2 separate regions of the Homo sapiens genome follow, and region 2 is linked to region 1. The links come from fine-mapping of genetic effects on gene expression. Tissue or cell type: whole blood. Region 1 holds a variant in brackets; the other region holds the start of a gene. All regions are shown on one strand. Distances are between the middles of the regions.

Evidence for each region. PIP is the estimated chance that this variant, and not a neighbour inherited with it, causes the effect.
Region 2: it holds the start of CMTM2, and the variant in region 1 is fine-mapped to the expression of CMTM2 in whole blood (INTERVAL, PIP 0.91).

Annotation. Positions count from the first base shown.
Region 1 is chr16:66,542,644-66,545,324 of GRCh38, forward strand. The region is part of intron 2 of TK2 (thymidine kinase 2); the gene reads right to left. Among named protein-coding and RNA genes, the nearest start is that of TK2, 6.1 kb to the right of the region's middle. The variant C/T (reference allele first, on the strand shown) is at 1,583.
Region 2 is chr16:66,577,840-66,580,520 of GRCh38, forward strand. CMTM2 (CKLF like MARVEL transmembrane domain containing 2) reads left to right here and starts at 1,624. Exons shown (of 4, transcript NM_144673.3): 1 at 1,624-2,053; 2 at 2,187-2,345. The coding sequence starts at 1,769. CKLF-CMTM1 (CKLF-CMTM1 readthrough) reads left to right here. Exons shown (of 4, transcript NM_001204099.2): 4 at 992-1,296. The coding sequence ends at 1,162. CMTM1 (CKLF like MARVEL transmembrane domain containing 1) reads left to right here. Exons shown (of 4, transcript NM_052999.4): 4 at 992-1,296. The coding sequence ends at 1,162.

The DNA of each region.
Region 1 (2,681 bases):
TCATGGCACTAGTGGGAGGGGCCAGAAACAGCCTTCTGGGTCTACCTATACCAAAGACCAAGGAGCATCCTAGAAGTAACTCATCTTAGGGAGAGAAGGTATTCCAGGCAGCGGTTCTCAGCTCTGGCTATACGCTAGGACCACCTGGGACCTTTTAAAAATCTCTACAGGGATGCCACAGCCCAGACCAATTACACCACAATCTCTGGGAGTGAGACTCAAGACTCAGTAACTTTTTTTTTCTTTGAGACAGAGTTTCACTCTTGTTGCCCAGGCTGGAGCACAGTGGCGTGATCTCAGCTCACTGCAACCTCCACCTCCTGGGTTCAAGCCATTCTCCTGCCTCAGCCTCCCGAGTAGCTGGGATTACAGGTGCCCACCACCACACCCGGCTAATTTTTTGTATTTTTAGTAGAGACATGGTTTCACCATGTAGGCCAGGCTGGTCTCAAACTCCCGACCTCAGGTGATCCACCCGCCTCAGCCTCCCAAAGTGCTGGGATTACAGGCGTGAGCCACTGCACCCGGCCAAGCCTCAGTAACTTTTAAAGCTCTCCAGGCGATTTCAATGTGCAGGCAAGGATGGGAACCACGAGGCTGGAGCAGAGCTTCTCCCTGTCTAGTCCACAGATGCCTGCTTCAGATGCACCAGAGGAGCTGGTTAAACATGAGGTGGCACCAGGTAGCATCCAGACCCTAAATCAGACTCTAGGCTGGAGCCCTTGAACCTGTAGCCCAGTGATTCTGACCAAGCTCTGCTCAGCCAGGCACTGCTGATGACATAGGCCCAGTGGCTCTGGCTCCAGCAGATGGCCACAGGGAACGGGCAGCTCCAATACATAAGACAAACTGTCCCCTGAGAACACATTAGACATCCTCCAGGGGCACACACAGAGAGGGGCCCGACCTGCTGCACAGAGGCCTGTTCCTTTGCACTCAGGCTGGAAGCACCCAGAGAAACCTGGGCAACACAGGTAACTTACCCAAGTGCCAGACTTGGCTAGGGAAGAATCAGAATTAGAATTCACATCCAGGCCCCTTCTCACGACTCCTGATGGAGCCTCAGTCACACCTCACATAAACACCAGGTCACAGTGGGCCGTCTCACCCGACCCCACTAAAGTCTCCCCAGCAACTAGAACTCTGTCAGCTGGCGGAGAAGGTTCCTCCTGCCTTGATCCTAACGGGTATCCAGGAGACACAAGGCCACTCTCCCATCCTGGGTCCCTCCCAGCCCACTCCTTTAGAGCCCCAAACTACAAAATGAACCCAAGGGAATGAACAAAAGGGCATGAAAAGACCCCATTAGGGCACTAATGGATTTAATTTTTTTATTGCTCTTTAAAGAAAACTTTTCCTCTTCCTAGATATATAAAAAGAGCTCAACCTAGACATCACTCTACAGTCTTTTTTCTTTCCTGTTCATTGAAGCATTTTAACAGGTTGTTCAGATAAGCCCTTCTCCCAGAAACTTGTTCCTATCCCCAGCATGAAATCCTGAAGAGCTGGTGAATGTCAGGCCCTGAATGAGCTCAGCCAATCTGCCCTCCGGTTTACAGCAGGCAACGCAGGAAGAATCTCA[C/T]AAAGTTCCCCTGAAATGGAAGGGGGAACAGGAAGCAAGCAAAGGGAGTCTTTACATTTCTTTTTAAAGTGATGTCTAAAAATATTATAAGAGAAGTGCATGCCCATTGAAGAAAATACAGAAAATCAAAAAGGAGAAACTATCACCCATAATCCCAATACTAAGAGATAAACCCCATGACATATGAGCATATTTCATGCCAAATATTATTTTCTATACAGTCCTCATCTTTGAGCACGTTTCAACTGTTTATTGAAGGCCTATGCTGTGCCAGGCACTGTGTACTCAGGGCCTCGTTGCAACGGCCAAAGAGCTCATGAGTGTGTGGAGGAAAGCAACAGGAAACTGTGAAAAGGAGATGGTCCCCATGCTGTGGGAGCACATGGCCGGCCTGGCCCAACACTCTGTGATTACGCTACAATTTATCTCCATTTTCCTCTGCTATGAGCCCTTGAGTCCAATTTTCCATGATTATAACTGAAACTGTGATGAGCCATCTATCCCTATTATAAGTAACAATATTTAATCTTTCCTAAAAATGGAAATTAAGCATTCTTGTGCTAAGAAATACATTCTCAGTGGCCAGGCGCAGTGGCTCACGCCTGTAATCCCAGCATTTTGGGAGGCCGAGGCAGGGGATCATTTGAGGTCAGGAGATCAAGACCAGCCTGGCCAACATGGTGAAACCCCGTCTCTACTAAAAATACAAAAATTAGCCAGGCGTGGTGGCGGATGCCTGTAATCCCAGCTACTGGGGAGGCTGATGCAAGAGAATCGCTTGAGCTTGGGAGCTGAGAGGTGGAGGTTGTGGTGAGCCGAGATCACACCACTGCACTCCAGTCTGGGTGACAGAGTGAGACCCTGTCTTCAAAAAAAAAAAAAAAAAGAAATACATTCTCACACACAAGAATGTATGTATGCATGAATATATGTATATGTTTATGAATATGCATATATGTATTTATCAGTTGGATTTCTCTGATCAAACCTTATTACACAATCCCTAAAAGAAGAAAATAAAAATCACTCGTAAATCTCAGCAATCATTGTCATTTGGATGTTTAATTAGAACCCAGGGTTCCAGAGGCAAACTGGCTTG
Region 2 (2,681 bases), 35 kb after region 1:
GAGGTAGGGCTTTGGTTCAAGAAGTTAAACAATGAGAACAGAAATTAATGCAGAAAAAGAGTTCATTTGAATTCATTCTATAATCAATAAATATCTGTCAATCCCATTGATTGTGCCAGACATGAGCTCAGTGCTGGGGATAGAGCCCTTTCCCCTTTGGGGAAGCTCACAGATTCACTGGGGCAAGACATACCTAGGAAAAGCTCATTAAGCAGCCAGGAATTAAGTGACCATAAAGAGAAACATCCAAGGTTGTCAAGAGTCCCGGAGTGCACAGGGGAATATCTGTGCCATCAGCCCCTGGTCCCCATCGGCTGACTCCGCTATCACTCCTTCTACTGCCAGGGGTTCCCACCCCCAGGTATCCATTTCTTACCTGGATGGCAGCATCCCACCCCACCACGCACTGGTCTTCCTGCCTCCAGCCTGGTTCACCTTCCATTCACCTCATGAACACTGCAAGCAGGTTTTCTGAATCTCACACCTGACCTCCTGATAGAGTCCCAGATCCTGCACCTCTCCAGCCTCAACTCTGCCCCCTTCTCAGCGGCTCTGGAGGTCCTGGCCACACCAGATTCCTTAGAGACCCTAGTCCAGTGCCTGGGTCCTCCTCCTCCCCTTAGGAACTCCTTCCTGCCCTTTGCAAACATAGCCCAAAAGTCTTTCCACGGAGAGGGCTTCTCAGGACCTAACCCCTACCTGCAGCCACCTAGGGCCACTGCCCTTCCCTAGTCCTTTCCGGGTGCCTCAGACATCAAGCGAGGCTACTACTGGCAACAAAATCCCCCACTTCCAAAATCCCTTTTTCTGGGAAAGGCAGAATCCGCCTGCAGCAGCCAATTGGGCAGGCGCCAAGAAAGTAGTGAAGGGTCAGAGGGGACAGGAGGCCACCCGCAGCGCCCACCCTGGATAGGGATAGGTTCGAGAGGTTGCTACTGAGCTGCAAAATAACCCCGTCTTTCCTTCCCGCATATGGTCTTGTATCTGACAGTCCCTGTGTCTCACAGCGGTAATCGTGTGTTGCATCGATGCGTTTGTGGTCACCACGAAGATGAGGACCAACTTGAAAAGATTCCTGGGAGTCGAAGTTGAAAGGAAGCTTTCCCCCGCCAAGGACGCCTACCCCGAAACCGGCCCCGACGCCCCGCAGAGGCCCGCCTGAAGCCAGCCCGGCGCCCTAGCAGATGCACGTGTCTGTCGAATCGCTGCCTCCGAGCCCACCCCCGAGCTCGCATGCTGTCACCCATTCCAGCCTAAATGTGACCATAAAATTAGGGCTGCTGCTTTTATCGAGAACACCTGCTTCCTCTCGTTGCCTTGTGTGAAAGTCGCGTTGTATTTTCCTGCGCTTGGCGCTGCGCCCGCGGAGCTCAGGGCCGTGACCCGGTGCTCGCAGCCCCCCGACCCCGCAGCGGAGCGGCGGCTTACAGACCTGGGGCCACCTGGAGACGCCGGGATGGGACCGCGAGGGCAGCTCCGCGCGGAGGTGGGACCGGCGGGTTGGGAACGGAGTTGGGGCCCGTCGGGGGCCGGCGCGTGGAGGGTGGGAGGATCCGGCCGCTGCCGGGCGGATGGGAGCTGCGCGAGGAGACGGGCGCGCGTGGAGAGGGCGCGGGAGTTGGCATTCGGTGGTCCTGGCAGTTAGCTGAGCACGCCCTCTGAGCCGCTCGGTGGACACCAGGCACTCTAGTAGGCCTGGCCTACCCAGAAACAGCAGGAGAGAGAAGAAACAGGCCAGCTGTGAGAAGCCAAGGACACCGAGTCAGTCATGGCACCTAAGGCGGCAAAGGGGGCCAAGCCAGAGCCAGCACCAGCTCCACCTCCACCCGGGGCCAAACCCGAGGAAGACAAGAAGGACGGTAAGGAGCCATCGGACAAACCTCAAAAGGCGGTGCAGGACCATAAGGAGCCATCGGACAAACCTCAAAAGGCGGTGCAGCCCAAGCACGAAGTGGGCACGAGGAGGGGGTGTCGCCGCTACCGGTGGGAATTAAAAGACAGCAATAAAGAGTTCTGGCTCTTGGGGCACGCTGAGATCAAGATTCGGAGTTTGGTGAGCTAAACTGGTATCCCTGGGTGGGGGGCCTTGGCCGAGGGTGGGGGGAAGGAGGAGTAGGCTCCAGGGGTCCTCAGAGAGATGGTGAAAGGCCCTTGCTGCTGGCTCAGGTGTCTATGTCTCACTGCAGGGCTGCCTAATAGCTGCAATGATACTGTTGTCCTCACTCACCGTGCACCCCATCTTGAGGCTTATCATCACCATGGAGATATCCTTCTTCAGCTTCTTCATCTTACTGTACAGCTTTGCCATTCATAGATACATACCCTTCATCCTGTGGCCCATTTCTGTAAGTAAGGGGTGATGGGGAGTGCCTGCATCCAGAATGCTGATCAGGTGTGTCTTGGCACCTGGAAAGTCACCAAACAGAGAGACACACCTCACCTCCCATATCTGTGCCTGGGTCAGGGACTCAGAACATCAGTGGGGCCCAGGCAGAGGCAGCTGGGTGCAAGAGGGGTAGCTAGGCAGAAAATGCTCCAAAAAGCCTATCTGTGTGTTGGAGTGAGAGTGGGGAACTCTTACTTACCTGGTGGTCAAAGAGGGCCTGAGCCTTTGTTCTCTTTAGGGGAAGGGGAGGTGTAGCAACCAGCTGTTCCTCCGAACTCCTGTGCCAGCTCACACT